Linked DNA regions of Homo sapiens: region 2 is linked to region 1. Evidence: fine-mapped QTL for protein levels in blood plasma. Region 1 holds a variant in brackets. A gene starts in the other region. All regions are shown on their forward strands.

Region 1 (16,482 bases):
AAGTCAAGCAGGCCCAGGAGTACAAGGCCCCGCTGAACATCAAAGTCAAGCAGGAGGCTGAGATCACCACCTACCGCCGCCTGCTGGAAGATGGCAAGGACTTCAATCTAGGTGATGCCCTGGACAGCAGCAACTCCATGCAAACCATCAAAAAGACCACCACCCGCCAGAGAATGGATGGCAAAGTGCTGTCTGAGACCAATGACACCAAATTGAGACATTAAGCCAGCAGAAGCAGGGTACTCTTTGGGGAGCAAGAGGCCAATAAAAACTTCAAAGGTCAAAAAAAAAAAAAAAAGAATAAAGGCCTTCTGCTGCATCCATGTTGCTGCAAAGAACATCTTTTTCTGTGGTTTCTTAGTATTGCACGGTATATACGTATTTCAGATACTACATGTTCTCACTTATAATTGGGTGCTAAACATTGGGTGAACATGGAAACAATAAATGCTGGGAGTTCTTAAAAAAACTGCCAAGACCAGCATTGAAAAACTACTTATCAGGTATGAGGTACACTACTTGGACAATGGAATTATTAAGTGCCCAAACTTCGACATCAGGCAGTATACTTATGTTACAAATCTGCCCATGTACCCTCATGAATCTAAAATAAAAATAATAAAATGCTTTGTGGTATAATGGCATGTTATATTTCTCCAGTTCTGGGTTAATAGTTGAAATTAGGAGTGAAAGACACAGAATTATGTCCGTTTTGGGTACAGAGGTGAATGTTTTTATACCTGGTCGCCCCACGTTTTATGACCTAACGTCTCTGAAAACCCTTGGTTTATAGCCCAAAAAGTGTCTTATCCCCAAGTATGCAGCTAAAATAAATGGCCACATCTTTATATTGTATTTATTAACTGTACACTAGATTATAATTTGTCACTCTACTCTTTTTGGGGAAAAAATGGTTTAATCACATTTCTCTTTTAGAATAAACCATTTTTGAAAATGTGAGGCTGTGAAAATCATGTTAAATTCCTGAATTAGGAAAATAATTTTTTTTCTTTTTTGTGGAGTCTAGCTCTGTCACCCAGGCTTGAGTCCAGTGGCGTGAACTCAGCTCACTGCAACCTCTGCCTCCCAGGTTCGAGCAATTCTTCTGCCTCAGCCCTCTGAGTAGCTGGGATTACAGGCACCTGCCACCATGCTCAGTTAATTTTTGTATTTTTAGTAGGGATGGGGTTTTGCCATGTTGGCCAGGCTGGTCTCAAACTCCTGACCTCAGGTGATCTGTCTGCCTTGGACTCCCAAAGTTCTGGAATTACAGGTGTGAGCCACTCCACCTGGCAAGAAAACATTTATTTTTAAGCATAAAAGTCTTATGGTCATAGACCAAAAATGACAAAGTACACGGTATGGGTTATTTATGACCACACTGCTGCAACCACTCTATCACAACCATTCTGGTGAAATAATAATAATAATAATAATGGATTAGAAGGTACTTTTAGAATATCTTTCTGATTCTATTGCAATGTTAAATTCTTGTCTTTATTATTTGTCATATAGAAGTCTGTACTTCAACAAAAGATGCCAAGAATTTCAAGTTAATATCCTCACACATATATTCTCACTAGAAGGGCACTGGTGTGTTTGCAATCAGGGTGGAGCATTTCTGGCTTTGCTTGTGCTACTTTGATTGTCTAAAATAGAAAGACAGGAAGTAAAGTGGAGTCAGCCATGACATATTGAGCTTCTACAGCAACAACATCTGAATTCTTGTGTTACGTCAACTAGAAGTAATGACAGTATTTTATTTTATTTTGTTTTATTTATTTATTTATTTAGAGACAGAGTTTCACTCTTGTTGCACAGGCTGGAGTGCAATGGTGCGATCTTGGCTCACCACAACCTCCACTTCCCAGGTTCAAGTGATTCTCCTGCCTCAGCCTCCTGAGTAGCTGAGATTACAGGCATGCACCACCACACCCGGCTAATTTTGTATTTTTAGTAGAGATGGGGTTTCTCCATGTTGGTCAGGCTGGTCTCAAACTCCCGACCTCAGGTTACCTGCCCACCTCGGCCTCCCAAAGTGTTGGGATTACAGGCACAAGCCACCACATCCGGCCTGTTATTTTACTATATTTATTTTTAAAATTGTAATTCATTTATCCTGAATATATCACTGGGCCCAGAACCTAGGTGATGTGACTCTCCTGCATTATCTCTGCCCATAAGTGGGATTATTAAATATACCTGGGCCTACATAGGTATACAGATGCTACAATGACTCATATACCTGGACACAGCCAAGAGAAGAGATTTTGACTCTCATAGGTTGGCTTACAACAATGGATAAGGTCCTGGGTCTCCTACTTGTACCAAAGTCAAAGAGAATAACAACATTCACACATATCATATAAATTCCTCAAGTGGCACCAAAAGTGTCAACAGGGCCAACCATGCTGAAGAGACTGTGACTCTCCTATGCACACCCAGCTGACTGTAAGGACTGTCACCCTTCCAGATGGACACAGACCACTGTGGAGGTTTTGAATGTCACACCAAGAGTGAGTCAAAGGTTGGAATTGTGACTCTCACACATGGATGTGGTCCACAGGTGGAATAATGACTCTTGGACCTCAGGTGGAATTGGGGCTCTCATGCAGGGATTCAGTCCAGCATTCAGACTGCTTTGCATTCTTGGACCCAACCCACAGGAGATACTGGCTCTCATACATAACCCGGGATATGTGCAGGATTGTAAATGTCATCCCTGGACCTTTCTGCGGGTGTAATTGTGACAGATATTTTTGCCTAGAATCTGAATGATTTGACTCTCCTGCCTGGGCCAAGCCCACAAATGTGATTGTGACATATACTCAGGCCAAGCACCTAGGTTATGTGACTCTCCTGCCTGAGCCCTGCCCTCAAGGGAATTGTGACATATCATTGAACCCAGCACCTAGGTGATGTGGCTCTCCTCTCCTGCCTGGGCCCTGCCTACAGAGAAAATTGTGACATATTCCTCGACCCAGCACTCAGATAATGTGACTCTCCTGCCTGTGCACTGCCTACACAGGGCATGGTGGCCTATCGCCAGGCCCATCAACCATGTGATGTGAATCTCCTCTCTGCCTGAGCCCTGCCCTAAGGATTGTAAAATATTGCTGGGCTCAGCACCCAGGTAATGTAACCTTCTTGCTTTAGCACTGCCCAAAGGAGAAATTGTGACATCTATCTGGGCCAATCTTCTAGGTGATGTGAATCTCCTCTCCTGCCCCCTCCCTGCTCTGGGACTATGACACATTACTGGACTCAGCACCTAGGCGATGTGACTCTCCTCTCCTGTCTAGGACCTGCCCAATTGGTGACTGTGACACATCACTGGGCCTAGCACCTAGGTAATGTGACTCCTCTTTTGCCTGGCCCCTGACCACAGGTTGCATTGTGACATATCACTGGGCCCAGCACCCAGATGTTACTCTTCTTCTGCCTGGGTTTGTTCACAGATGGGATTGTGACATGTGCCTGAGCCCAGCATCTAGGTGGTGTTAGTCTCCTCTCCTGCTTAATACCTGCCCTGGGTACCGGGCAAGGCAATATGTCACAATGCCCCCTGAGATCAGGGCCCAGGAAAAAAGTCACATCACCTGTGTGCTGTGCCCAGTGATGTGTCACAATGTCCCCTGGGGAATAGAGTTCAGGAAGGAGAGTCACATCACCTACATGCTGCATCTAGTGATATATCACTTTCCTGCCTAGGCTCTGCCCACAGAAGGCTTTGTGACAGATCTATGGGCCTGTAATCTAGGTCATTTCACTTATTTTGGGGGGACCTTATGCACAAAAGATTGTGACATATTTCTGGGCACAGTACACAGGTGAGGTGACACTCCTGCCTGGGCCTGGCCCACAGAAGGAATTATATCACTGCTTCCATCACCTAGGTGAGGTAACTCACCTCTCCTGCCTGGGCCCTGCCTACCGGAAGAATTGTGACATAACACTGGGCCCAGCACCTAGGTGATGTGACTCTTTTGCCTTGTTCCTTCCCACAGGTGAGAGTGCGACATACCTGGGCTCAACTCACAGCTGTGAAAATAACTCATTCTTGTACCCAGCCAATAGGAGAGATTTTGATTCTCATAGATACATTTAGGGCAACTGGTAAGGTCCTGGGTCTCTTACTTTTATGAAGATAACAGAGGATTATGACACTCACACATATCATATAAAGCCCTTGAGTGGTACAGAGAGTGTCAGAACATAGGAGCAGGGCACAGTGGCTCACACCTGTAATCCCAGCACTTTGGGAGGCTGAGGCGGGCAGATCACCTGAAGTCAGGAGTTTGAGACCAGCCTGGCCAACATGGTGAAACCCCGTCTCTACTAAAAATACAAAAATTAGCCAGGTGTGGTGGTGCATGACTGTAATCCCAGCTACTCGGGAAGTTGAGGCAGGAGAATTGCTTGAACCCGGGAGGCAGAGGTTGCAGTGAGCCGAGGTTGCGCCATTGCACTCCAGCCTGGGTGACAGAGCAAGAGTCCGTCTCAAAAAACAAAAACAAAAACACAGCACTCAGATGAGATTATGACTCTCATATTCACACTCAGCTGCCAGAATTGTCACCCTCAAACATGGACACAGCCCACTGGTGAGGTCCTGGATCTCACAGGAGTACACAGTTGGAATTGTGACTGTCATACGTAGGCCTGGCCACAGGTGTGACGCTGACTCATTTCTGGACACAGCACACAGGGACAATGATGACTTTCATACCTGAACCCAACCAATAGGAGAGATGTTGACTCTTGTACCTAGGACAATGAGTAAGATCCTGGCTCCATACCAGCACAAATTTCCAGAGCAGATAGCAACTGTCTTGCACACTGTATAAAGCCCTTGGGTTACACAGAGTTTCATAACATGGCCCAGCACACAGAAGCGATTGTGACTCTCATATGCACACCCAGCCAACAGTAAGGATTGTCACCCTCTATCATAAAGCCACCCCGCTGTCGAAGTTCTTAATCTCACACCTGGATTCAGTCAAAAGTTGAAATTGTGACTCTCCTACGTGAATGTTTTCCACAGTTGGATAATGACTCTCAGACCAGGATTCAGAACACTGGTGAGGCTGTGACTCCTTTACTGAAACACAGTCCCCTGCAGGCAGGATTGGGGATCTTATGCACAAATCCAGCTAACCCTTAAGACTGACTCATGTACTTGGACCAAACTCACAGGCATTGACTCTCATACCTGAAGCCAGGACATGTGTGGAATTGTTAAGCTCTTCTCTGGACCTTTCCACAGATGTGGTTGTGAGATATATCTTTGCCTAGTACCTGAGTGAGGTGCTTCTCCTGCCTGGGTCTGGCTCCTAAATAGGATTGTGAGATATACCTGGGCCCAAGCTCTCAGGTGATGTGACTCTCCTGCCTGGGCCCTGTCATAATGGGGGATTTTGCTATAATGCTGGACATAGCTAGGTGATGTGACTCTCCTGTCCTATCTGGGCTCTGCTCACAGGTGAGATTGTGACACATCGCTGAGCCCAGCACCCAGGTGATATAGCTCTGCTGCCTGGGCCCTGCCCACACAGGGCATTACGGTATATTGCCGGGCCAAACACCCAGTAATGTGACTCTTTTTCTGGGCCTTGTCCTCAGGGTGCATGGTGATATATCACTGGATCTAGCACACAGGTGATGTAAATCTCTTGCCTGGGTCTTGCCCGTAGGAGATATTGTAACATATCGCTGGGCTCAGCACTCAGGTGATATGCCTCTCCTGCCAGGGCTCTGCCCACAGTAGGGATTGTGACATATTACAGGGGCCGACACCTATGTGATGTGTCTCCTTTTCTCCCTTGGTCCTACCCTCAAAGAAGATTGTAACTTATTGCTGGGCCAAGCACCCAGGTGATGGGACACTTCTTCCTGGGCCCTGCCCACAGAGGAAATTGTAACATATTTCTGGGCCCAGAACCAAGGTGGTATAATTATTTTGCCTTAGCTTTGCCCACAAAAAGGATTGTGACATATTCCTGGCCCAGCATCCAGGTTATGTGGCTCTCTTGCCCTGTCTCTGCCCACATGTGGGATTGTGACATATCAGTGGGCCCAGAACCAAGGTGATATGAGTCTCCTGTCTGTGCTCTGCCCACAGGGGAGATTGTGACACATTGGTGGGCTCGGCATCCAAGTGATGTGAGTGTCTTGCTTGGATTTTACCCAAAGAGAGTATTGTGACACACCTGTGGATGTGACTTTTCTGCTTGATCCCTGCCCACATTTGAAATTGGGGCCTACACCTGTTTCCATCACCTAGGTGATGTAGCTCTCCTTCCTGGTCCCTGTCCAAAGGGAGGATTGTAACACACCTGCTTCCAGCACCTAGGTAATGTGACTTTCCTGCCTGGGCCCTGCCTCCAGGTAATTGTGACATATACCTGAACCCATCTTCTGAGTTGTGTTGCTCTTCCTCCTGGGTCCCACCCAGAGGGTAGATTGTGGCATGTACCTGGGTCCAGCACCTAGGTGATGTTACACTTTGCCTGGACCTAGAACACAAGAAAAGATTTTGACAGATTTCTTACCACAGCACCTAAGATATGTGACTCCGCTGCCTAGGCTAAAGCCACAAGTGGGATTACATAATACTGGGCCGAGTACTGAGGTGATTTGAGCCTTTTTTAGGTCAAGTTCTCAGGGGGACTGACATATACCTGGGCTCAGGAATTAAGGTGATGTGGCTGTCCTGCATGGGCCCAATCCACAGAGAACATTGTGACATATACCTGGGCCCAGACCATAGGTCATGCGACTCTCTCACCTAGGTCAAGGCCACAAATGGGATAGTGACATATAGTTGAACCAAGCACCTATGTGTTCTGACTCTCATGCCTGGCCAAAGTCACAAGGGGCATTGTGACATATACCTGGGCCCAGCACTTAGATGATGTGACTCTTTAGCCTGAGCCCACCCCACAGGGAGTATTGTGACACATACCTGGGCTCAACACCTATGTGAGGTGTACATCTAACCTGGGCCAAGCCAACAAAAGAGATTGTGACAATATACCAGGGCTAAGCACCTAGACAATGTGTCTCTCTTACCTGGGACCTGCCCATAGTGGGGATTGTGACACATACCTGGTACCTAGGCTATGTAACTCTTCTGCCTGGGCTGAGGCCATAGGTGGGATTGTGATGTAGAGCTAATTCCAGAACCTAGGTGATGTGAATCTCCAACATGAGCCCAAGCAACAGGAGGGATTGTGACACATACCTGGGCCCAGTACCTAGGTGATGTGGCTCTCTTGCTTGGGACCTGCCAAACAGGGGACTTTAATATACCTGGGCCCCACACCTAGGTGATGTGACTCTTCTGCTGGGCCTCGACCATAAGAGAGATTGCGATATATACATGGGCCCAGCCTTCAGGTGATGTAGCTCTTCTGCCTGAGCCAGGCTCACAGGGGGAATTGTAAGATTTAGCTGGACCCAGCTCACAGGCAATGATGACTCTCATACCTGGACCCAGTGAAGAGGAGACATTCTGACTCTCATAGCTAGCCTTAAGGAAATAGGTAAGGTCATGGATCTCATACTTGTACAAAAGTCACAGAGAGGTTTGTGACTCTCAAGCATATCACGTAAAACTCTCAGGTGGTAGAGTGTCATAACAGTGCCCATCACGCAAGTGAGACTGTGGCTCTCATGCACTCCCAGTTGAAAGTTAGGATTGTTACTCTTACACATGGACACAGCTCACTAGTGAGGTCCCCAATTTTATAGCCAAACATACTGGACAGTTGGAATTG[T/C]GACTCTTCTATGTGAATCTTGACACAGGTGGGATGGTCATTCATTTTTGGACCAAGCCCACAGGCATGATCATGAGTCTCATACCTGGACCCAGCCAATAAGAAACATTTTTGGCCAGGTGCGGTGGCTCATGCCTGTAATCCCAACACTTTGGGAGGATGAGGTGGGCTGATTACGAGGTCATGAGTTTGAGACAAGCCTGGCCAATATGATGAAACCCTATCTCTACTAAAAATACAAAAATTAGCCAGGCGTGGTGGCACACACCTGTAGTCCCTGTTACTTGGGAGACTGAGGCATAAGAATCTCTTGAACCCGGAAGGCGGAGTTTGCAGTGACCTGAAATCGCACCATCGCACTCCAGCCTGGGTAATAAAGCGAGACTCTGTCTTGAAAAAGAAAAAAAAAAAAGAAACATTTTGACTCTTCTGTTGGGCTTAAGGCCACAGGTAAGATCATGTGTCTATACCATCATGCAGGTCTCAGGGAAGATTGCAGCTCTCATGCATGCTGTATAAAGCACTTGGTTGGTACATAGAGTGTCATAAAAGAACCCAGCACACAGGAAAAATTGTGATTCTTGTATGCATACTCAACCAAATGTTAGAATTATCAGCCTCACACATGCACACAACCCACTGTTGAGGTTCTGAATCTCACACCCAGAAAAGTTGACAGTTGGAATTGTGACACTCATCCATGGATGGAGTCCACAGGTGTGATGGTTAATACTGAATGTCAACTTGATTGGATTGAAGGATACAAAGTATTTATCCTGGGAATTGAGAAAATAACAAATTATCCCATAACATTTACTAATTATCTGAAGATAGATCCTCAGAAAATATATTACTGGGTTAAATGATGTCTATGTAAACTGTTCACAGTTACAGCCAGATGACTTTCCAAAAGGGCTGTAGCAGGTCCATCGGCGCTGGCATTCTCTGATGCACCTGCTGCTCTGTATCTAAGCTCTCCTGCATATTACATTCTTTTAATTTTTGTTGTCAGTTTGTGTCTATATGGCAAATAAAATCTCATTGTCCCTTTCACTTTCAGTTTTTAAACTGACACGTTTGAGTCACCTTTCAGTTGTTTAAGACCTATTAAGATTTTCTCTTTTTTGAGTCATCTGCTCAGATCTTTGGCCCTGTGATGGGCATTCTCCCACCCTGGAGTTTTCCAGCATTTGCCCCTTTGCCAGTTCTGGGATTGTTGTAGTTATTTCTCCAGACTCCCTTTAATATTAAAGAAAAAAAAGCAATTGGCCGGGCGCGGTGGCTCACGCCTATAATCCCAGCACTTTGGGAGGCTAAGGTGGGCGGATCATGAAGTCAAGAGATCGAGACCATCCTGGCCAACATTGTGAAACCCTGTCTCTACTAAAAACACAAAACGTAGCTGGGCATGGCGGCGCTCGCCTGTAGTCCCAGCTATTGTGGAGCTTGAGGCAGGAGAATCACTTGAAGCCGGGAGGCAGAGACTGCGGTGAGCCAAGATCATGCCACTGCACTCCGGCCTGGTGACACGGTGAGACTCCATCTCAAAAAAAAAAAAAAGGCGGGGGGATTTGCATGGGGAGAATCCTATGGAGGACCAATAAAATCTCAGAGAAGTGAGCTCGACATAAAGCAAAGAAAATAGACTCGCTTTCAGAATTTTTGACATTTTTGCCTTTTTAGTAAATTATCAACACTTTGGAAATTATGTTTTATTTCAATATTTTTCTTTTCTTTGCAAAATAGGTATACACCCAAACTCACACAAACACAATTACTTACTCCGTAACTCCTTTACTTCTAAGATTTATCCTTAGAGGAATATATTTGTATATTTTATCCTTGTAAAACAAGACTATCAGTCTGCATATATTTTGCAAGTCAGAAAGGTGACATGTGCAAAAAAAAAAGTGGAATAAAATTTTGTAAATACTCATTCAATATTCAGAAATACATGGCTTTAAATTGTACTTTTATATAATCTTCATTATTACCATTATAATGGCCCTGTAGTTACAAAAAGAATAAAAATATTACCAATAGAAACAATATTCTTTAAACTGTTTGATGTTTAAAGTTATTGAAAAAAGGGATCCCTAAAAATGTTATTCAACTATGTTAACCAATAGTGTATTGTTATCATCTGTTACCTACAAGCTTCAGTTAGGTTGGATAGGTTAACACTGGTAAAAAAATAATACTTTGTTCAATGCACAATAGTAGAAACAAAAACAATTATGCTTAATTAAAACAAATTAAGTTCACACAGAATCTAAATTTTTTTTTAAATCCACTGTATCTTATTATTTTAATAAGCAATTGGAAAAACAACTTGAATTGAAGATCTAAAATGTTTCTCCCTTACTATAATGCATGGAATCTTACTCTAAAAACCTACCCCATGTATCACATGCTGTTGTTAATCAACCACAAAGCACTTCCCCACTTAGAATCTCTTGATATGTCTTACATTTCAGTGTCTATGAAAAACTATGTGAATGATGCTTGTCTAATAGAGATGTGCCTCTTATAGGTCTGATGAAGCAAAAACTAACCATGTGCTTTTGTATACACACTAAGAATGAAGGCATAACAAGTGATCTAAGAGTTGAATTGCAGCCGGGCATGGTGGCTCACGCCTGTAATCCCAGTATTTTGGGAGGCTGAGGCAGGTGGATCATGAGGTCAGGAGTTCAAGACCAGCCTTGCCAAGATGGTGAAACCCCATCTCTACTAAAAACTGCAAAAATTAGCCAGGCGCAGTGGAAGGTGCCTTTAATCCCAGCTACTTGAGAAGCTGAGGCAGGTGAATCGCCTGAAGCTGGGCTGCAGAGGTTGCAGTGAGCCAAGATCGTGCCACTGCACTCCAGCCTGGGTGACAGAGTGAGGCTCTGTCTCAAAAAAATAAAAAAGAGTTGAATTGCATCAATGTTTGCTTTTCAAGAATTTTAATTTTTTAATGCAAAAAGTATGCTTTGAATGTAATTATAACTCTCCAGAAGAAAAATCAATCTCCTCCTTTTAAATGTACATACAAATAAATTAATTTTTTGGTAATTCTTTATAGAAACAAAGTCTTGCTGTGTTACCCAGGCTGGTCTCAATCTCGTGGGCTCAAGTGTTTTTTTCACCCTAGCCTCCCAAAGTGCTGGGATTACAGACATGAGCCATGGCACCTGGCCTTCAGCAATTTTCTAAGCTTCCCAATGACACAGTATATTGTAAAAATATACACGGTAGCCTGGGTGCGGTGGCTCATGCCTGTAATCCCAGCATTTTGGGAGCCCAAGGCAGGCAGATCACAAGGTCAAGAGATCGAGACCATCCTGGCCAACATGGTGAAACCACGTCTCTATTAGAAATACAAAAATAAGCTGGGTGTGGTGGTATGTGCCTGTAATCCCAGCTACTCAGAAGGCTGAGGCAGGTGAATCACTCGAACCTGGGAGGTTGCAGTGAGCCGAGATCATGCCACTGCACTCCAGCCTGGCAACAGAGTGATACTCCTTTTAAAATATATATATATACACATATATAATATATACATGTGTACATATATATAATATATACATGTGTACATATATAATATATACATGTGTACATATATACAATATATACATGTGTACATATATAATATATGTATATATAATATATACATGTGTACATATATATAATATATGTACATATATTATATATGCAATAAATACATTAAGCTACATTACCATAAGAAATTTGGTCATGTAGTGTTTAAATTACCTATCTCAATTTATATTAAAAAAACTGAAAATCGGGGCCAGGTGCAGTGGCTCACGCCTGTAATCCCAGCACTTAGGGAGGTCGAGGTGGATTGATCACCTAAGGTCAGGAGTTCAAGAACAGCCTGACCATCATGGTGAAACCTCATCTCTACTAAAAATACAAACTTAGCTGGGCGTGGTGGCAGGTGCCTATAATGCCAGCTACTTGGGAGGCTGAGGCAGGAGAATCGCTTGAACCCGGGAGGCAGGGGTTGTAGTGAGCCAAGATCATGCCATTGCACTCCAGGCTGGGCAACAAGAGCTAAACTCCATCTCAAAAACAAAACAAAACAAAAAAAAACCTGAAAATTAAAAAAAAAAAATAGATTTTCTTACATTTACAGAGGTACTTAGTGTTCTGATAAAGTTACTGAGTACAAATATCTCTAGAAACACATCTGAAACCATCACAGAATAGAAAGTCATAAAGTAGAAAACTCACATCTTTATCTGGTGTTCTTGCGATTTTGAAACCAAATTTCAATATCACTACTGCTTTCACACATTTCAGCAATGATGTAGAAAGGATTTAAAATAGTTTCATACAGAGTTTCTCTAAAAGACAAATAGTCTCATGTCCCCCAATAGCAATGGAAGACCTGTCAGATTATTCAACCTCTTATAAACCATAAGATGGACTTCAGCTCTAAGTATAAGCTTGAAGGAAGATTAAATTAAAGTAGAATTCTTGGGGGATTTAAGACCATGGGACAGAAGCTGCCCCACTGTTTGGGTATGAGAAAAGAAATCAGGCATTTTAGAAACTATTTCTATTGCAGCAGACCTTCCTAAACCACATTTTATGGTCTGGCTTTCTTCTTCACCTTTGGACCTCAGCTGTGTCATCTTCTTTCACTCCCGCCTACCTAGGTGCTGGCTATGGTCTCTTGTCTTTCTAAATTCCAAGATTCTTTCCTTTGCTTCAGAGAGTTGATCAGGCCCAGATTAGACACAGCAAGATCTGTCTTATTAGAAAAAGGAAACATGAGTTTTGCTGGATTCTCCAATTACCAGACTAGTACTTAGTACTGTGCTTACTAAAGAAAAAGAATATTACAGATAATGTAAAGTTAATATCAAAATACCTTTTCTTCGACAGAATCTTTAGAATATTTAGAAAGTATTTTAAATTTGTGGGTCCTTAGCTCACTACCCAGTAGTACTACTGAATCAAAAGCTGGTGGTGAAAATTGGATTTTAAAATATGAGCAACATTTTATGCTACTAAATTTCTATAATTACCACTAAACTAGAGTGAAGAATGTCAATCATTCAAGAAAAAAAGGTTAATCTCAAAATAAAACATATTGGGCGGGGCACGGTGGCTCATGCCTGTAATCCCAGCACTTTGGGAGGCCAAGGTGGGTAGATCATGAGGTCAAGGGTTCAAGACCAGCCAAGACCACTGCACTACTTTTTTTTTTTTTTTTGAGACAGTTTTGCTCTTGTTGCCCAGATTGAAGTGCAGTGCCATGATTTTGGCTCACTGCAACCTCTGCCTCCCAGGTTCAAGCGATTCTCCTGTCTTAGCCTCCTGAGTAGCTGGGATTATAGGCATGTCCCACCACGCCTCGCTAATTTTGTATTTTTAGTAGAGATGGGGTTTCACCATGTTGGTCAGGCTGGTCTCAAACTCCTGACGTCAGGTGAACCACCTGCCACGGCCTCCCAAAGTGCTGGGATTACAAGCATGCACCACCGCGCCCAGCCAAAAAAATTCTTTTTTTATACTAACAAATTCCCCAAATTTTCTAGACAGCAGGGATCTAAAACTATTCATTGAAAGCAAAATTATGTTTAGGAATATGGAGCATATTTTTATGTTTGTTGGCTTCTTGTAAGTTTTCTTTTGAGAAGTATCAGTTTATGTCTTTTGCTCATCTTTGTGGGGTTATTTATTCTTCTTTAATTAATTTTTTTATAGGTTCTGGAAATTAGACTTGTCAAATGCATAGTTTGCAAACATTTACTCTCATTCTGTAGGTTGTCTGTTTACTCTGTTGATAGTTTCTTTTGCTGTGCAGAAGCTCTTTAGAATAGTTAGGAAGTTGGGAAATTGTCACTTTTTGTTTTTCTTGCTTACTTTTGGAGACTTAGTCAAAAATTCTTTGCCAAGGCCAATGTCAAAAAAGATATTTAGTAGGTTTTTTTGTAGGATTTTTATAGTTTGATGTCTTAAATTTAAATCCTTAATTCATCTTGTGTTAATTTTTGTATATGGCAAATTGTAGGGGTTCAGTATTATCTAGTATTTTTTTCCGCATACGGTTAGCTGGTTATCCCAGCACCATTTATTAAATAGACAGTCTTATTTCCATTGCTTATTTTTGTCAATGTTGTCAAAAATTATATGGCTGTAGGTGTGTAGCTTTATTTCTGAGTTTTGTATTCTGTTCCACTGGTCTCTGTCTGCTTTTATACCAGTAATATGCTTCTTTGGTTCCTGTAGCCATATAGTATAGTTTAAATTTGGGTAGAGTGCTGTCTCTGGCTTTGCTCTTTTTGCTTAAGATTGTTTTGGGTATTTATGCTCTTTATTGTTTTATATAAATTTTAGAATAGTTTTTTTTTTAATTCTCTGAAAAGTTTTATTGGCAGTTTGATAGAGATAGCATTGAATCTGTAGATTAATTTGGCCAATGGGGTCATTTTAATATTGATTCTTTTAATCCATGTGAATATAATGTACTTCCATTTGTTTATGTCATCTATGATTTCTCTTAGCAGTATTTTGTAGTTCTCTTTGTGATAATTGTTCACCTCCTGGGTTATATGCATTCTTAGGTATTTTTTTGTGGCAAGTTAAATGGGATTGAGTTCTTGATTTGGCCCTCAGCTTCAATAATATTGGTGAATAAAAATGACTTTTGCGTATTGACTTGGTATTCTGAAACACTACTGAACTTGCTGATAAGTTCCAGGAGCTCTTTAGTAAAGTTATTAGGTGTTTTTAGGTATCAAATTAGATAATCCATAGAAAGAGATAGTTTGACTTTTTTTCCCGTAATTTGGATGCCTTTTATTTCTTGTTCTTGACTGATTGTTCTGACGAGAACTATTATTAATATTTTGTCATTAAAAGTGAATAAAAATTCTATCACTCTCCTGCTTCTACTTCCCTTAACTCTTACATTACAGCCAAAAGAAATCTTTACATTTCTCATTTTATTACAATAAAAATATGTATTTTACCAGAAAAATAAAACAAGAATATGGTTAAAAAAAACCCAAAACATATATCAAATTTAAAATTTTCTACAATAAAATAAAATCGATTGAAACATGTAAAATAAAAGAAAGCAGCCAGGTGCAGTGACTCACGCCTGTAATCCCAGCACTTTAGGAGGCCAAGGTGGGTGGATCACGAGATCAAGAGTTCGAGACCAGCCTGGCCAACATAGGGAAACCCTGTCTCTACTAAAAATACAAAAATTAGCCAGGCCTGGTGGCACATGCCTTTAATCCCAGCAACTCAGGAGGCTGAGGCAGGAGACTCACTTGAACCCGGGAGGCAGAGGTTGCAGTGAGGCGAGATCATGCCTCCGCACTCCAGCCTCAGTGAAAGAGTGAGACCCTGTCTCCAAAAAAAACAAAAACAAAAACAAACAAAACAAACAAAAAAACAAAGTGCAGGTGAGTGCTTCGAACTGAACACCTTAGAAGCCCTAGTCCATTGTGGATGCACTGAAGCCAAGATTGTCACCAAAACTCAGTTCTCTGTTCTCCAGAGTCCAGGATCTGTAAAACTCTGCATTTAAAAAAGCTCTCAATGTTTTTCCAGGGGAGACTGTGTTCATCTATATCCTATCTCTTCTCACCTTGATTCAAATCCTACCTGATCTAGCGGTGCTGTTTCTGGTTTTGAGCTTAGTTTTCTGTAATTCTCTTTCTTATTTGGATTGTGGTCTGGTCCTAGTCAGAAAGGAAGTTTAGGTGACTCAAATCTCTCTAGATCCAGAGTCCCATAGTCTATTCCTGACTTACATTTGTTGTTCATTTTCTTAACTAAGGCTGTTCAGCAAGCATCAAGAGTTAATGAGAAGAATACGGTTCCAAGGGATCATTACTACAATTCTCAAAGCCATCTCAGGGATATAAGCCATTTCTCATTCCCTAGCTCAAAATAAAACCCTACCAAAGACACACAGCTTACTATCCCTCATTCCACCACTCTTTCTGATCTTAATATGAACAGCCCAAGGCCTTATCTGGCATTTGAGTGCATTACCTACTGGAATGGGAAGAGAGCACCTTGTCTTTTTTCAAATAGTTTCTCCTCCTCATCTAAGCTTCTATCTGTAAAAAAGATTTGTTGAAAATGGAGCTGGCAAGTGGGGCCTTGGATGAAGAGGTAGAGAAGATCTTGGTCTTCAGTTTCCCATTCCATGTTGAAACTCAAATGAAATGTCCTCTCTCTTACACATCCAGACTCAGAATGCAGGGTGTTATGCTGGACTTGCCTTTTATAAGCCCCTCAGCTGGGTACGGCTCACTCTTATGACAAGAAATTTATTTCCTGGAGACATTATGGCCTTCATAAGGAATGTTTCAGGTTGTGATTTACTGGGTACCTTAGACACACATAAGGGGAGATTTTTTCAGGGTCCTGTCATAGCATCAAAAACCAAAATAACAAAACCAGCCAGGTGAGGTGGCTCACACCTGTAACCAAAGCACTTAGGGAGGCCAAGGTGGGTGGATCACCTGAGGTCAGGAGTTCGAGACCAGCCTGGCCAACATGGCGAAACCCCATCTCTACTAAACATACAAAAATTAGCCAGGTGTGGTGGCGAGTGACTGTAATCTCAGCTACTTTGGAGGCTGAGGCAGGAGAATCGCATGAACCCAGGAGGTGGAGGTTGCAGTGAGCCGAGATCATGCCATTGCACTGAAGCCTGGGTGACAAG
Region 2 (16,482 bases), not on the chromosome of region 1:
GCCTACCCTGCTTGGTTTTTTTGGTCGCTTGCTTCTTGTTATTTTTTTTCCTTCCTTTTTCCATGAAGCTGAAGGCCTCAGTAGCTGAAGCCCTTGCTGCTGCACACTGAAATTTATCCTTCCTTGGCTCCTTTATCGGTAACTCATGGGTCACCATGGTAATGGTCACTTCAGTTGTTTTTCAGGAACTTGGGCCAGCTCCTGTCCAGTTTGAACTGGTTGAGGCCACTGCCCCTTCAACTGGGCTTGTGCAGGTGCTGGAGAGGTGGCCTTTTGATGTTAGAGGGCCAAAGCTTCTCCCTCGGATCATGCTAATGCTGGCATTTTCTGTGCATATGTTCCATGAAATGACACTTGTGCAGAACCTGCCACTTCATTTTTCCCCCACTGTCAATCACCTTTCCCCACACCTTAGACCACCCCACTTCCCTAACCCATAAATATCCCTAAGCCTCATCTTTGGGGAGGCAGATTTGAGAGCTGGTCTCCCACCTCCTCACCTGGCAGCTTTGTAAATAAATATTTTGTCTTTTGCAAATCCAGGTGACTGTGACTGACTTACTGTGCATGGGCAGAACAGACCTGGACCTGGCTGATAACAATTTTCTCCTATTTTTCTCTTAAAGTTTTATGGATTTATACCTGTGATCCATTTTGAGTTAATTTTTATATAAAGTGTGAAATTTAGGTTGATGTTCATGTTTTTACCTGTGCACATCCAATTGCTCCAGTACCATTTATTGAAAAGGCAATCCTTCCTTTATTTAATTGCATTTGCATTTTGTGAAAAATCACTTGGACATATTTGTGTAGTCTATTTCTGGATTTTTCTATTCTGTTCCATTGATACATGTGTCTACTCCTCTGCCAATACCACACAGTCTTGATTATTGGTTATGTTTAAAAAGTTTCTGAACTAATTCTCAGTGTGGCCTGAGAACCATTTCTGAAGCTAGAAGAAAGTCTCCAAGAGACTGACTAGTCCAATTATCCCCTGTAATCCACAAAGGTATAGTCAAAGTGTGCTGTACTGAGAGTCAAAAGACCTGGGTCTTGTAGTCTCAGCTCATCAGGATGTGGCTGAGTGACCTGGCTAGGTCTTTTAGTCTGAGTCCCAGTTTTCTCACCTGTGGAACTGGGATGCTCATACAGCACTTGTTTAGCCTACCCTCCCAGTATGCTTGTGAGTGTAAAAGGAAATATATTTGATCTATATGTAAGGTTTAGACTTAAGCATAATTCAAATACAAAGGGTTCTTATTTTAGGGATAAGCACAATGAGATTCAGAGATTAAGGTTCTCCTTACCCAAAGTCATCTTCTATTTGACTTCGTGGCACCCATCAGAAAATTTCACATATTATTCAGCACATACGTAGTGTCCAAACTCTGCCAGGCACTGTGAAAAGTCCCTGGGGTACAAACACAAAAAGACATGGTCTCTGCCTTAAGAATCTTTCTATTTAGTGAGGACATAATTTTACAAAAGCTAAGTGAATACAAATTAAATTTGTATTGAGTATTCCTTTAGAATTCCAGGACCCTCCTAGTTGGATGAGTCCACAGGACAATAAATCATTGTCCTAGCATCTCTGTAAGTCCCCAGCTATACTTTCAGACTTTCACAGGGATGCACACTGACTTTGGTAGAGTCAACAGGAAAGAGGGTTTTCCTGGACAGAGCTAAAAATCCTGTGAGGTTCACACACTTGTAACCCCTTCCCAGCGATCACCATCTACACTCCAGGATTCCTCTGCCATCCATTTATTAATCAAAAACATCCCACAGAGCCTATTCAGGGCCCAGATGTCAGGCTTAGTATCTGGGTGATAAAATAATGTATACAACAAACTCCCATGACACGAGTTTACCTATGTAACAAACCTGCACATGTGCCCCCGAATATAAAATAAAAGTTAAAAAAATACAATTTTTAAAAAATTTAAAAAGTGTATATTGCCTACATCAGGTGGGGCAGATCGTGCAGACAGTGGGCATTCCCAAGGGTCAGCCTGCTTCTTCTGTGTGCTCCCAGGTCTCATTTCATGAATTGATTTCAGCCAAGGACTATCTATAATGTAACTGCATGTGGACTAGCTTTGTCAGAGAAAAGACTGGATGTAACATTCTTCTACGTAGCCGGCACTGAAGAAAATCTTCTTTGGAAAACAAAGGCTATTACTATTAAATCACTTAAACATTATTACATGCTATTTGGTACGTTCCAAGTGCATGAGAGTAAAGCAAAACACACAATAGCAAAACATGATCTACTGCAGCAAAATCAAAATTCAGTTTCTAGAGTCACAGCTGGAGAGATGCTCTGATGTAACCACAAGTGCCATCCCAGCCACTGGTGAGGCTCTACTGCCCCCGGGTGGCTGAAGTCCTTCTCTGACAAAGCTGCCGGTGCTCTCATGCTGATAATGTTACAGTGATTTTTACAAGGGCAGAGTGGATGTATGAATAGTTGGATGGATGGATAAATGCATGGAGGGATTGGGGTATTCATTCATTTAATAGTATTTAATTTCAACTATTTTTCCACACATGGGGCCAAGAGCTGTTAAGACATGATGTTTGAGATCTGAGATGTAAAAAACTGCATTGGTGTTAATTAAGCTAGAGCTGTGGTCCTAGCTGCTCAGTGCATTGGTCCCAGGAGAATGGGGCGGGGCGGGACGGGGCGGGGAGGGGGGTGGGGTGGGCGGGGTAAGAAAGGATTAAGGAAGTGACCTAAGATAAGAGGGGAGGGACTTCCCAAATATACTTCTTCTAGGGAGACAAATATAGCTCTGGCTAACCCATAGCCTATTAACTCATCACTTGGGTTAACAGGAGAAAGAATAAAAAACAGTAAGTGTGGGGTTAGATGTATACTAGAAGGAATACAGGGAAAATCCAAGGTGGGAACAGGGAGAGTAGGCAGAACACTTTGCTACACTGAAAAACAAAGTCAAACAGGTTAAAACAAGATATGGCACTTGACGTGACTGGTCTTCAAAGATGATGCCACTCAGTATTAGTTACTATACTATTGATGGATATGCAAACTGGTACATTTATTTTGACATAGTGGTTTCACAATCAGGAATTTATTGTCTAGAATTACTTGCATGATATACAGAGAGAAGAACAGATGAGACCACCTGTTATTCGTTTCACCTGGACTTAAATAATAGAGTTAAGACACTTCGAGATGAGGAGTTTCTTCTGGAGATTGAAGATTGTGCTGGAAGTTGTCACTGTAGCTGGGTTAGTATTGTTAGCTCTTTTTAAGGGTCTGTAAAAATTCTACAAGATTCCCAGCGATCTTTTTAAGATTCTATAAAAATTCCCAGTCTTTTGATTTCAATTGAACTCAAATATGCATTTATTGAGCACCTGATGAATGCACACTACTTTGGCTGGGTTTTAGGAGGTTGTGATGCAGGGATAACTCAGATCAGATTCCTTCCCTCAAAGACCTTGGTCTAGAGAAGCCTGGCTTGTAAAAACATAAAATACAGAATTTATGGTGAAATAATGGCTACAATACAGCATTATGAAAATATGGGATAGGGAAGATATGATACATTCTAACTGGAGGGATGATGGAGGGGAGATTCCCAGCAGATGTGGCATTTGAGCCTTGAAACAGAATTTTGACAGCTCTAGGGGAAGAGGGTGGGGGAAAGTGGGGAAGGATTCTTTTCCTTTAGGTTGGAAGAGCATGTGTTGCTATTTATTAAGTCTTTATTGAGCACCAGCAAGGTGTTGTGTAAAATAGACAGCATAAAAACAACTATAAAGGGGAGATAAAATACATCCCTGAAAAAAAGTCATAACAGTAAATGATACTGTTTGATTACCTATCAAAACAGTCTACAGAATCCAGAGGTGAAGCAGAAATGCAGGCTACTTTTCTCTGGGTAGTGAATTAGCCACTTCAAAAATATTTCAGTGAAGTCAGTAAAGGAAAACATGAGGCATAATAAGACATTTCTACCACTAGCCCTCCTTTCTTCACTAGATTTTGTAAAAAGTTACTGTTTCTATTTTTAATTACATGAGTAATCTTGCTTCAAAAAATTCAAGGGATAAGAAAAAGTAAAAAGCAAAATTCTCCCTTCAAAATCCCCTGTTCTCCTCCAATCTCATTTCTCTTTCTGGAAGTAAGCACTATTATCAGCTTACTGTGTTTCCTTCCAGAATGATTTCAGATGAATTCATGGAAATATGTAACTGGTGTAATTTTGCATAAGTGGATATATGTGTTTTTCTGAACTTTTTTACTCAACACCATATTTTAGAGAATTTTATATGTTAGCACATAGACCATGGAGTACAGAGCTACAACATTTTTTTTTTTAAACTGGAATTCCACAATTAGGATATACCTTGGCTATTTCACCGTTTCCTTTTTAATGGTTAACAAGATGAAAACTGCTAAAGTCTTATTGGGGTTTTTATAACCAAACAAGGGAAAAACGACTCCAACTCTGGGCCTAAAAGACATCCTACTTGAACCTCTCACTTGCAGTTCCTCATTCAATCCCCAAACTGCAGTGTGTTTCACAAATCCAGTCTCCTAAGTGAAGGGAAAGCAGGAAACCCTTGACGAATTCAGTAGTAATACAATGAGATAAGTATGTGCTGTGATTCTTAACTCCTAGCCTTCTCCAAAGGGACCAGTGATCATCTAGGGATAAATATGCACTGAAAAAAAAGGAAAATCGCAGTATGCCACAGTAGTTCACTGGTTAGAGTGGGGTTTACAGGGGTGAAGTAATTAAAGGAATTTTAACCCAAGTCCACCTTACAGTAAGTTCGATGGAACCCTAAACCCTTCCAGTGTTTTTTCCCCAATTCCTGAGTGTACATTTAAAGGACATAAGGCAGAATCTTCACATTGGTTTCCTAACCTTTAGAACAAGGGTGAGCAAGATAGAAAAGACTATGAAGAATCCACAGAGCTTTATTACACTCTCCAACCCCCAATCAAAATAGTAATGCACAAGTTATAACAATCCCTTGTTGACTAGCTATAGTGTCACCCTAAAATATCTGAATCAATTATCTTAATTTATACCTGCCTTCCAGCTTGACTGGTAATGAAAACAGATGGACCTGGAAGAATGACTGACAATTATTAACTCAATTAAGTAGTGTACCCAACTGCAGGTGCCTTTCCAAGCATGGTCTCTTTCAAGGAACAAATCAACAGAGACCCTTGTATGTAGCTATTGCTTACGCAAATGCTTTCTCCTCCTCCATTTAACAAGCACTTACTGTCTTACAGTTTCTGTGAGTCAGGAATCTAAGCGTGGCTTAGCTGGGTGCCTCCATCTCTGGGTTTCTCAGGCAGCTACAATCAAGATGTCAGCCGGGCTGTGGTCAACTCCAGGCTCACCTGGGGAGAATCTATTACCAAGTTCACTCACCTGATTGTTGTCAGGCCTCAGGTCCTTACTGGCTGTTGGCTGGAGACATTGGTTCCTCAACATGTGTCCGGAATTGGTGGGTTCTTGGTCTAACTTAAAGAATGAAGCCGTGGATCCTCGTGGTGAGTGTCACAGTTCTTAAAGGCAGCATGTCCGGAATTTGTTCCTTCTGATGTTCGGATGTGTTTGGAGTTTCTTCCTTCTGGTGGATTCGTGGTCTAGCTGGACCAGGAGTGAAGCTGTAGACCCTCATGGTGAGTGTTACAGCTCTTATGGTGGCCCATCTGAGTTGTTCATTCATCCCGGTGGGTTCGTGGTCTCACTGGCTTCAGGAGTGAAGCGGCAGACCTTCGCAGCGAGTGTTACAGCTTATAAAGGCAGTGTGGGCCCAGAGTAAACAGCAGCAAGAGTTATTGCAAAAAGCGAAAGAACAAACCTTCCACACGACAGAAAGAGACTCCATAGGGTTACTACTGCTGGCTCGGGCAGCCTGCTTTTATTCCCTTATCTGGCCCCACCCACATCCTGCTGATTGGTTCACTTTACAGAGAGCTGATTGGTCCGTTTTGACAGGGTGCTGATTGGTGCATTTACAATCCCTGAGCTAGACACAAAAGTTCTCCAAGTCCCCACTAGATTAGCTAGACACGGGGTGCTGATTGGTGCATTTACAAACCTTGAGCTAGACACAGAGTGCCCATTGGTGCATTCACAATCCCTTAGCTAGACATAAAGGTTCTCCAAGTCCCCACCAGACTCAGGAGCCCAGCTGGCTTCACCCAGTGGATCCCACACCCAGGCGCAGGTGGAGCTGCCTGCCAGTCCCCGGCCCTGCGCCCGCACTCCTCAGCCCTTGGGCGGTCGATGGGACTGGGCGCCGTGGAGCAGGGAGCGGCGCTCCTCAGGGAGGCTCAGGCATGGCAGGCTGCAGGTCCCGAGCCCTGCCCTGCGGGGAGGCAGCTAAGGCCTGGCGAGAAATCGAGCACAGCAGCTCCTGGCCCAGGTGCTAAGCTCCCCCCAACTGCCCGTGGCCAGCGGGGACGGCCGGCCGCGCTGAGTGCCGGGCCCACCGAGCCCGCCGAGCCCACGCCCACCCGGAACTCGGGCTGGCCCGCAAGCGCCGTGCGCAGTCTCAGTTTCCGCCGGCGCCTCTAGTCTTGCTTCCCTCCAGTCCATTCTTCATGCTACAGGAAGAGTGAGTTTTCTGGAATACAAATCTAATCACAACCGTTCCCAGCTCAAAACCTAGCAGTACTCTAGTACTGGTGCCTCAGACTAAAATCCAAGCCCCTTGCTTCCTGAGGCAGAGATGAGTGTACGTGAATTTTTAAAAATAACCATACAGAAAAACAGATTCTTTGGGATGTGCAGTTCTGCGAATTTTTATTTTTATTTATTTTTTTGAGGTGGAGTCTTGCTCTGTCGCCCAGGCTGGAGTGCAGTGGCACGATCTCGGCTCACTGCAACCTCTGCTTCCCGGGTTCAAGTGATTCTCCTGCCTCAGTCTCCCAAGTAGCTGGGACTACAGGCGTGTGCCACCACCCACGCCTGGCTAATTTTGTATTTTTAGTAGCCACGAAGTTTCACTATGTTGGTCAGGCTGGTCTCGAACTCCTGACCTCAGGTGGTCCGCCCACCTCGGCCTCCCAAAGTGCTGGGATTACAGGAGTGAGCCACCGTGCCCGGCCTTCTGTGAATTTTAACACATGTATAGATTCTTGTGGCCACTGCCATCTATTAGTCCCCAAAACAACCTCATGCTATCCTTTCATAGTCGTACTCTCCCTCATCCCTACCCCTATCTTTTTAAGAAGGTCAAAGAAATGGAATGTGATCTTTTGAAAAACAAAAACACCCAAGCCCCTTAGGGCGTTTTTAATGCCCTTGCCTACCTCTCCTCCCTGTCCTCCAACAACTGCCCTCCCAAGCCCCACAATGCAACTCGCCGGAACTATGCTCAGTTCTTGGGGTGCTCCAAGCTGTCCTCCACTTAGCCAAGCTCCCCACCCGCTTCCGGGGGTGGGTTTCCACTGTGCACAACAGTACCTAGCGCTTCCCCCACTACAGCCCCCTTTCACGCTGTGGTAATTGCCAGGTTATCTGCCTCTCCCATTACAGTTCCTTCCTCACAGGGACCGCGTTTAAACCACGGCGGTATCCCTACCGCGCAGGATGGGCCGAGCCCCGCACGCCCCGAGGCAGCACCCCGCACGCAGTAGCCGGGCGTCGAGGCGTTCCCAGCCCACACCAGGCGCGGACCTACGAAGGCGGAGCGAGCATGCGCACTAGGAAGGGGCGGGGCGGGGCGCGCGCGATCCCCCGCCCCCTGCACGCGGTCCCAGGAGGGGCGGGCCTTGGCCGCTCGCTCTCCCCTCCCCCATGCCGCTGCGCTTGCGCGCTGGGGACAACCGTTGCTGGGTGTCCCAGGGCCTGAGGCAGGACGGTACTCCGCTGACACCTTCCCTTTCGGCCTTGAGGTTCCCAGCCTGGTGGCCCCAGGACGTTCCGGTCGCATGGCAGAGTGCTACGGACGACGCCTATGAAGCCCTTAGTCCTTCTAGTTGCGCTTTTGCTATGGCCTTCGTCTGTGCCGGCTTATCCGAGTGAGTGACGGGCCTGAGGAGGCAGCGGACCGGGGACACCCTGGGGGAACTTCCCGAGCTCCGCGACCTCGAAGCCTGGCCCTTCCTTCTCCCTGGTCCTACATGCCTCCCTCCCCCACTGTCCGGGGTCCTGGCCTCGACGCCGAGGGGTGTCCCTCTCCTCTCCTGGTCAGGGAACGCAGCAACTGAGGCGGCGCGGCCCAGATGAGACGGGAAGCGCCTGCGGGCCGTGGGCGCGGGTGGAACCCCCTCACCTCACCGGAGGCCTTCCTCTGCCCACCCGATCCTTCCCCAGCCATTGGGCGTGTGACCGTGCAGGGGTCGTGTGACAGCTGCTGGCCAGCTAGGAATGATTTTTACATTTTCTTCCTTTTTTTTTAATTATTATACTTTAAGTTCTAGGGTACATGTGCACAGCGTGCAGGTTTGTTACATATGTATCCATGTGCCATATTGGTGTGCTGCACCCATAACTTGTCATTTACATTAGGTATATCTCCTAATGCTATCCCTCCCCCCTCCCCCCACCCCACGGCAGGCCCTGGTGTGTGATGTTCTATTTTTGCATTTTCAAAGTAAATATGAAATGTACTCTTTCATGACTTGTGGAAAAGCATGACGCTCACATTTCATTGTTCGTGAATAAAGTTTTACTGGCACACCACCACGCTCATTCCTTTACGTATTGCCCATGGCTGCTTTCCCACGTTAGAACAACGGGGTTAAGTGGTTGCCACACAGTCTGGTCTGCAAAGACTGAAGTATTTACTCTCTGGCCCTGTACAGAAAAAAAGGTTGACCCGTACGGTAAAATTTGGAGAGCATGTGGATTGTGGGTCGCGGTCTGGGACACTCACCTGAGGATGCGCTCCCAGAGAGCATGCTTGCGCACACGGCATTCAAAGCCTTAGTTAAGCAGGATTATAACTTAAGACCTGCCAAGGAGCAATTTTTGTCCCTCCCCGAAAGCTGAAAACCAATAAGGTCAAATTCAGGGGTGCTAAGACTTTACTATATTAACAATATCATGTGGGCACCTTAAGGCACTTAGTATTTAAGTCAGGTAGGTGAGGCTTCCCCATTTAGTCTAACTGTAGTTCATTGTGGCATTTAGTAATGTTGGAGTTTGGTTTCACTTAAATCAATAAATACAATTTAACAGGTGTAAAAAAAGCGCTATCGTGCATGCTGATTATGCAAATCTATTTTTCAGAATTGCTAAACGATCTTAGTTAAAAATCAAATTTAAAAACTGAAAATACAACACAATCTAAATTATGAATAGTAATGGGAAAAGTTCTAGATGAAGTTCTAGGTAACTAAAGTTAGCTCTTTAAATACTAGCATTTATGATTTGTAGCTGTTTTTAATAAAAAGTTTTGTAAAATTTTTCTTCCTTGACATAGAGGACCAGAACATAATGAAGATGCTACTATCTTTTCTTGATGTCTGATGATCATTATTACTAACACCAGTTATTGCATTTTGGTAGTTGTAGATCAGCAAGTCACAAGTGACTAACATATATGGAGACTTTAACTGAAGTGACTTTAACACTGTCACACAGTACACTCTGGGACTGCTAGGTAGGAGTCCCTGGACACCCACTTAACTCAGTGCAGTCTCTTGCCTAACACCATAATTTTCCCCTCCCCCTCCCCTTCCCTTTTCCCCCCCTTTTTTTTTTGCCTGAGACAGGGTCTCACTCTCTAGCTCAGACTAGAGTGCAGTGGCCCGATCTCGGCTCACCGCAACCTCTGCCTCCCAGGCTCGAGGGATTCTCCCACCTCAGCCTCCTGAGTAGCTGGGATTATAGGCGCACGCCACTACCGCCTGGCTAATTTTTGTATTTCTAGTAGAGACGGGGTTTCACCATGTTGGCCAGGCTGGTCTCGAGCTCCTGACCTCAAATGATCCATCCGCCTCGGCCTTGCAAAGTGCTGGGATTACAGGCTTGAGCCACTGTGCCCAGCCAGCCTGTTGTCTTTCTTAGCACCCTATTCCCTAATCTTTCTTGGGAAGAAAGAAAAGGGTTGTAGGAAATGAAAAGACGCTTCCCAGAAAAAAGGAGTGATTTTGTGTTGAATATATAGATGTTATAAGACATAAGGAAACTATATACAGGTTGTAATCATAGAAGATGTCTTGGAATATGTAATTACCTTTCTTCTACAGAAGTGGATTAAGGAATATATAGAGCAGGCAGTGGTACATGGCTGCTTTCTCTGTATCTGTCTCTCTACTTTTTCTCTAATTTTAATTTTGTTTTTAAAATAAGTATACCAAAATGCGTATATCATTGAGCTTGATGTAAATCAGCTATGCATTCTTTTATATGGCCACTATTCAAACAATTGTTGGCGAGATGCAAAAGATAAGGTACATAGGTTTTTATAATGAAAAGTGCAGCTTTGACACATTTTTTCTAGACTACTAGACAGTTTTGAGGTTATTACGCAAACATCACGGGTGTATTAAGTAATTGCATTTATTGAAAACCTCAGTACTTCTTGTATCTGCCTATACCTTTCTAACAGGCCCAATCCAAGCTTAGCTAGTATTTGTTTAATCTAAATTCAGTTAGACATAAATGCAGCTTGGGTATACAGAAGTCGGCACTCCTTTACATACACACACACACATCCTGATGGTGCTGGAGAAACAACGTTTTACTATATAAAATTTTTATACATTCAGTTTCCTCTACCTGATTTTTCCATAGTTTTAAATACTTTGCCATTTTTAAATTTTTGAATGGGAAAGTATTTAATGTATTCCCTCTTTAATGTATTTGCACTGTGCAACTTACTTTACTTTTTAATGAGAATTCTTTTTGCTTTAAAAAAAAAAAAATGCACAGGCCGGGCACGGTGTCTTACACCTGTAATCCCAGCACTTTGGGAGGCTGAGGCGGGCAGATCACCTGAGCCCAGAAATTCAAGACCAGGCTGGGCAACATGGCGAAACCCCGTCTTTACAAAAAATACAAAAATTAGCCAGATGTGGTGGGGCAGGCCTGTAGTCCCAGCTATTCGGGAGGCTGAGGTGGGAGGATCACCTGAGCCCAGGAGGTAGAGGTTGCAGTGAGCTGAGATGGCGCCACTGCATTCCAGCCTGGCTGACAGAGTGAGACCTTGTCTCAAAAAAAAAAAAAAGCACAGTAACTTCTAAAGTAATATTAACATAATAGTTACATATTTAAATAATATCAACTACTATTAAAATTATATAATTGGCCTTTTTAAATTTTAAGTCATCAAATATTCATGGGCTGGCAGTGCAAACTAATTAAAATTAAAGTGTGTTAATATTAATTTAATATTAATATATGTTAATTTTTAAATGATTCAAACTTTGCATAATAAGTATAAATAAAATTAAAATATTAATTTTGGGGTATCTCCCAAATAAATTATTTCCTCTAGATCATCTCTTGGTATAGACTAGGAAAAATAGGGTTAGTCTAGGATTACAAAAGCTCTTATTTCTAGATTGGTATTATAAGAAGGCTCAATGTATCAGTCTTTGGCTTCTGTCATTGTGTTTAGGAAGGATTTTGTCCTAATGAACCACAGAAGGTAAGGGAAACAATAAGGCAGCAACCAGCAACAATTGTTTGAATCTATCACCAAATAAATTAAGAGGAAAAGAATATTCTTTTATTTCAAATACATTCTAAAGGTAAAGTTCACTGAGTTCTGGTGCTGCAAGTTCACTTAGCTAGTGCCCAAGGCTACAGCATTTAAAAGGTCTCTCAAACCTGTGAATAAACTGTCATGACACACTTTGTTAATGTTTGAGATAATGAGGAGCATGTCATCCAATAGGCAAGTGTCAAGAGAGTATTCTGTGGGGGAGTAGCAGGAAGTTTCATTAGCCTGTCCATTGATGTTTTATGGGGGAAAAAAGTCCTGTCTTTCTGTTCTGTTGATCATATTATCCCTTAAATGGATATACTTTAATCTCTTGATAATATATGTGAAATTAAACTTAAGCAACATTTTTTATCTCCAAATAAAATACTAGTTATTTGAAAAGAAAATATTTTCTTTTTTTTTTAGTATCACTATATATTTGAAGCATTTTAAAAACACACAATTTATTTAACCTAAGTATAGTTTTTTCCGAGCCTCAAATATTCATACCTTGACCATTTGGAGCCATTGTAAGCTGTCTTCTCTTGTTCTTTTGATAGGATCCCATATATTTTTAAAGACTTCTTGTTTTCTGATGTTAACTGATTGTTCCAAGCCCACTTTGTGTCTTTCCCACTCTATCTTTCTCACTCTGAATGGAATTAACTGTCTTTCCAAGGGGATGGAGAACATGGTATGAGAGACCAAAGTGCCTGCGATACATACTAGACTACTGCAGTGGGGAAATATTGTTATTTTTGTCATTTTAGTGAACAGAACTAGAAGAGAAAGATTTAAAATAATGAGTTTATTTTGGTTTCAATTATAACATTACTCATAGGATGCATCTTGATTTTTAACTCTTTATCCGCACTAGAATTGTAACATAATTTAATAAGGCTATTTTGGTTGTGTATTGTGGCAAAAATGACTGCTCCCCAAATTTATCATTTTTCATGATTCTATGGGTTCACTAGACTCAGCTGGGCAGCTCTGCTTCATATGGTATAGCTGAGGTCACTCATGCAGCTGCATTCAGCTGGAAGTTCAAATGGATAGGAACATCCCAGATGGCCTCTCATCCTCCAGGGTCTTTACATGACTTCTCATCTTTCAGTACTCTAGCCCAAGTTTCTTTACACCATGGCAGCTTGCTTCCAAGAAGGAGATTTATAAGCCCCAACATGGATGCTCTTACGAAGCCTACACTGTATCAGACTTGCTAATGTCCTATAGGCCAAGACAAGTCACATGGGGCAAGCCCATATCCAATGTCAGAAGACACTACCCAAGAACATGAATAGCAGGAAGTGTAAAGCCATAAAGTTACATTTCTTTAACTGGAACACTTGATTAATATGAACATAATTACTTGTTTATTTACCTGTCAGCAAAAATTAAGATTTGTGTAATAATAAATTATAAGAAAATTGCTGGATGAATAAGAAGATTTAATATTTCCTTTTATGACCATTCCTTGAGTACACCTCAGTAATTAAGCACAATTATTACTACTTTGAGTTGGAAATACAGTACTCCAGCTCAGTTCGTTTTAAAATTTTAACCTTCATAAAAGTTCATTTTAATTTGAAGGTGTTGGATATTTTAACTGGTAGTTCTTGCATTATTACAGCTTTCAGTTATTAATTCTTACTTTAGTACTTAACTGCTGTAGAATAAGGGAAGTTTATTCTTTATGAGTCCACTTCATGGTATGTATAGAAAATACAAGCAATTTGTTCTCCAAAGTTATGGACATTCAGCCAGAGTGTGTGGACCATCTATAAGTGATGGATGCTTGGGTATATGTTTAAGTTTTATATACATGAGTTCTTTATGGATAAAGCCATTTTGTTTTCACTATCATTGTAATAAAAATCCTAGTTATATTCAAATCTTTAACAAAATGAGCATCCATAATTGGTGATTAAATTTTGGGTGCAATCAGCAGTTGCCATATCAAGGCTACTGGCCAAGGGCAAAGTAGAAATGTATGTGTATCTACACAATGAAATATTATTTGGCCATAAAAATCAATGAAGTACCGATACATGCTACAACATAGATGATCTTGAAGACATTACGCTAAGTATAAGAAGCCACTCACAAAAGGACACATATCGTATGAGTCCATTTATATGAAATGTCTAGCATAGGCAAATGCGTAGCTACAGAAAGTAGATTAGTGGTTGTCCAGGGTCTGGGGGATAAGGGATATGGGAAATGGATTTTACTGTGGGATGACAAAACTGTTTTAAACTTAGATTGTGGTGGTGATTGCACCACTCTGGACATACTGAAAACCATTGAATTTCATACTTTAAGATAAATAAAAGGTAAATTATGGAGGTATTTTAATATTAAGATTGTGATTTACTTACATTAAAATTATGTCAATGCAGTATTACTTTAGAGATTGATAAAATTCAATGAAAGGTAATTAGTAGAACATAAGTTTATGTGATCTAAACTTACATTAGGCTATTTAGTAAGGGGCAGTTACAAGAAGTATGGGGGCTCTCTGAGAAATGGAGCTATTTCACCATGATGTTTATGATGTTATTTTATATAAACTTCACACTTAGAAATTTAGAAAGACGTAGTAAGCTGTGTCTTTTATTATAAAAAACTGCTTACTTTGCCTAAAATAAAAGAACATTCTTATTACTCATTTAAAATTTTCTCTGTAATAATTATTGGACAATTAGCCAGAAACTGCTCCCCACACAATAGTTTTTAGACTAACAGATTTATTTTTAAACATAACATGAAGTCTAGTTTTCTTCCTCTGTATTCTTCTGTAGAAATGTTTTACCTGTGATTATCTTAGTAAGATAAATTACTAGAAGTGCAATTAATTTACATACCTTCCAGCATTCTGTTCATTCATTCAGTTATTCATACTTTTTGACTGTCTAGTATGGTTCTAGGCACTGGGTAAAACAGAGTATATAATGAACAAATTAGATGTGTCACAGCTCTCAAAGAGCTTACTAAGTGTAACAGTTAACAAATATTAAACTAACAAATACAGTTAGAACTGTCTAAATTCTATAAAGAAAAGATCAGTATGCTAGAGAGAGACTAAAGAAGGATCTAGGGATCAAAAGGGGAGTAAGGATGGAACTTATTATTTTTTTTCTTTATTTCTTCTAAAAAAAAAACAGGATCCATGTGTAGAACGTGCAGTTTCTTACATAGGCATACGTGTGCCATGGTGGTTTGCTGCATCTATTGGCCCATCCTTTAAGTTCCCTCCCCTCACCCCCCACCCACCAACAGGCGGTGGTGTGTGTTCTCCAGGGGCTGGGGTATAGGGGATATGGGAAATGGGTTTTATTGTTCTCCTCTCTGGGTAGGAGGGAACTTATTTTACTAAGGAAGTAACATATACACATGCCAGTCCTAGGTTTTATCATTTAAAAATATTTGCCTACTTGACTGGCAAAACAAAAATTGTTTTTAATTTGCATATCTTTTATGAACAATGAATTTTAGCAAGTTTTCATGCAAATTGGCTTTTATGTTATTCTCTTCCTCCTTTAATTGGTCATTCTATGAAAAGGAAATATATTTCACATGTATTATTTATTGAGTGAAGTTTTAAATTTTATTTATTTATCTATTATTTTATTTTATTTTTTTGAAATGGAGTTTCACTCTTGTCCCCCAGGCTGGAGTGCAATGGCACAACCTTGGCTTACTGCAACCTCTGCCTCCTGGGTTCAAGCGATTCTCCTGCCTCAGCCTCGAGAGTAGCTGGGACTACAGGTGCATGTCACCATGCCCAGTTAATTTTTGTATTTTTAGTAGAGATGAGATTTCACCATGTTGGCCAGGCTGGTCTCGAACTCCTGACCTTAGTTGACCCACCCAAAGTGCTGAGATTACAGGCGTGGGCCACCAAGCGCAGCCTGAAATTTTATATTTCATTGCTCATTTTAAATCATGATTTTATTATTTTCCTCATAATAAACTCAAAAGTAATTAACTTGCCTTTTATTTCTGTGTGAACGGGATGTATTTTTTTGTAAGTCATTGATTGTCAGTTACTTGTACTTTGTAGTAAGAAAATACTGTATTTGGATTATTTTCAATATTACTAGATACATCTTAATATGCGAAAGGGATGCATTTTGGTCCATTTGATGATAGAACAAAATTTGGTCATATTTAATTTAATTTAATTTTAATATTTACATGTAGTTTAAAATATTTTGGTCCAGTTGACAGCACAATTTCGGATACTATATTTATTTATTTGATTTTATTTAATGTTCACATGTATTTTAAAACAGAGTAGTATCCCTGCAGAATAATTTTATCACAACACTAATACAGCTTTGCCAGCATCCTTGTGTCATTTCTTTATGACAACATTGTGTGGTTGTTACAAGCACCTGCTTTGAAGTAAGGCAGCCTGTGTTCAAATCTCATCCTTACTTATAAGTTGAATATAATCTTAAGCAAATTGCTTATCCTTTCTAAGTCTCTTCCTTTTCTTCTTTGACAAAGTACTTCTCACAGTCAAAGCTCTGGGTATAGTGCCTGGCACATAGTGATCATTCAATCAGTGGAAGCTATTAGGATCTTTTAAATCATTATCTTCCATTTCCCCTTTGGATTTCCTACCACTTTTGTTCCTACAGTTATTTAGTACCATTTTGTTTACTTTCTTACCATTTCTGTTGTGTGACAGTTCTTCCTGTACTATTTCAAGAAGAGAAGTGCAGGCAACCTCAGGCTCACCTTCAGGCCCCATATCTGAGATTCCAGCAAAATCTCAAGCCTGCTTAGCAGTTAGCCATCCTGCTTATAAGA

Direction of the effects. Positions count from the first base shown, and alleles are read on the strand shown. Strength reflects both the effect of a copy and how common the allele is.
As copies of C replace T in region 1, the plasma level of the protein whose gene starts at base 7,834 in region 2 goes up (weak association).

What was found. PIP is the chance, under the fine-mapping model, that this variant and not a neighbour inherited with it causes the effect. The UK Biobank Pharma Proteomics Project read protein levels with antibody pairs (Olink). The fine-mapping took linkage between variants from a reference panel, not from the people measured, so its PIPs are less certain.
Region 2: SPESP1 starts here. The variant in region 1 is fine-mapped to the plasma level of the SPESP1 protein (UK Biobank, PIP above 0.99).

The regions. Positions count from the first base shown.
Region 1 is chr19:20,964,974-20,981,455 of GRCh38, forward strand. LOC112268247 (a long non-coding RNA gene) reads left to right here and starts at 7,185. Exons shown (of 2, transcript XR_002958424.1): 1 at 7,185-7,544. The variant T/C (reference allele first, on the strand shown) is at 7,779.
Region 2 is chr15:68,922,692-68,939,173 of GRCh38, forward strand. SPESP1 (sperm equatorial segment protein 1) reads left to right here and starts at 7,834. Exons shown (of 2, transcript NM_145658.4): 1 at 7,834-8,026. The coding sequence starts at 7,963. SPESP1-NOX5 (SPESP1-NOX5 readthrough) reads left to right here and starts at 7,834. Exons shown (of 17, transcript NR_033672.2): 1 at 7,834-8,026. RefSeq lists a silencer at 4,510-4,710.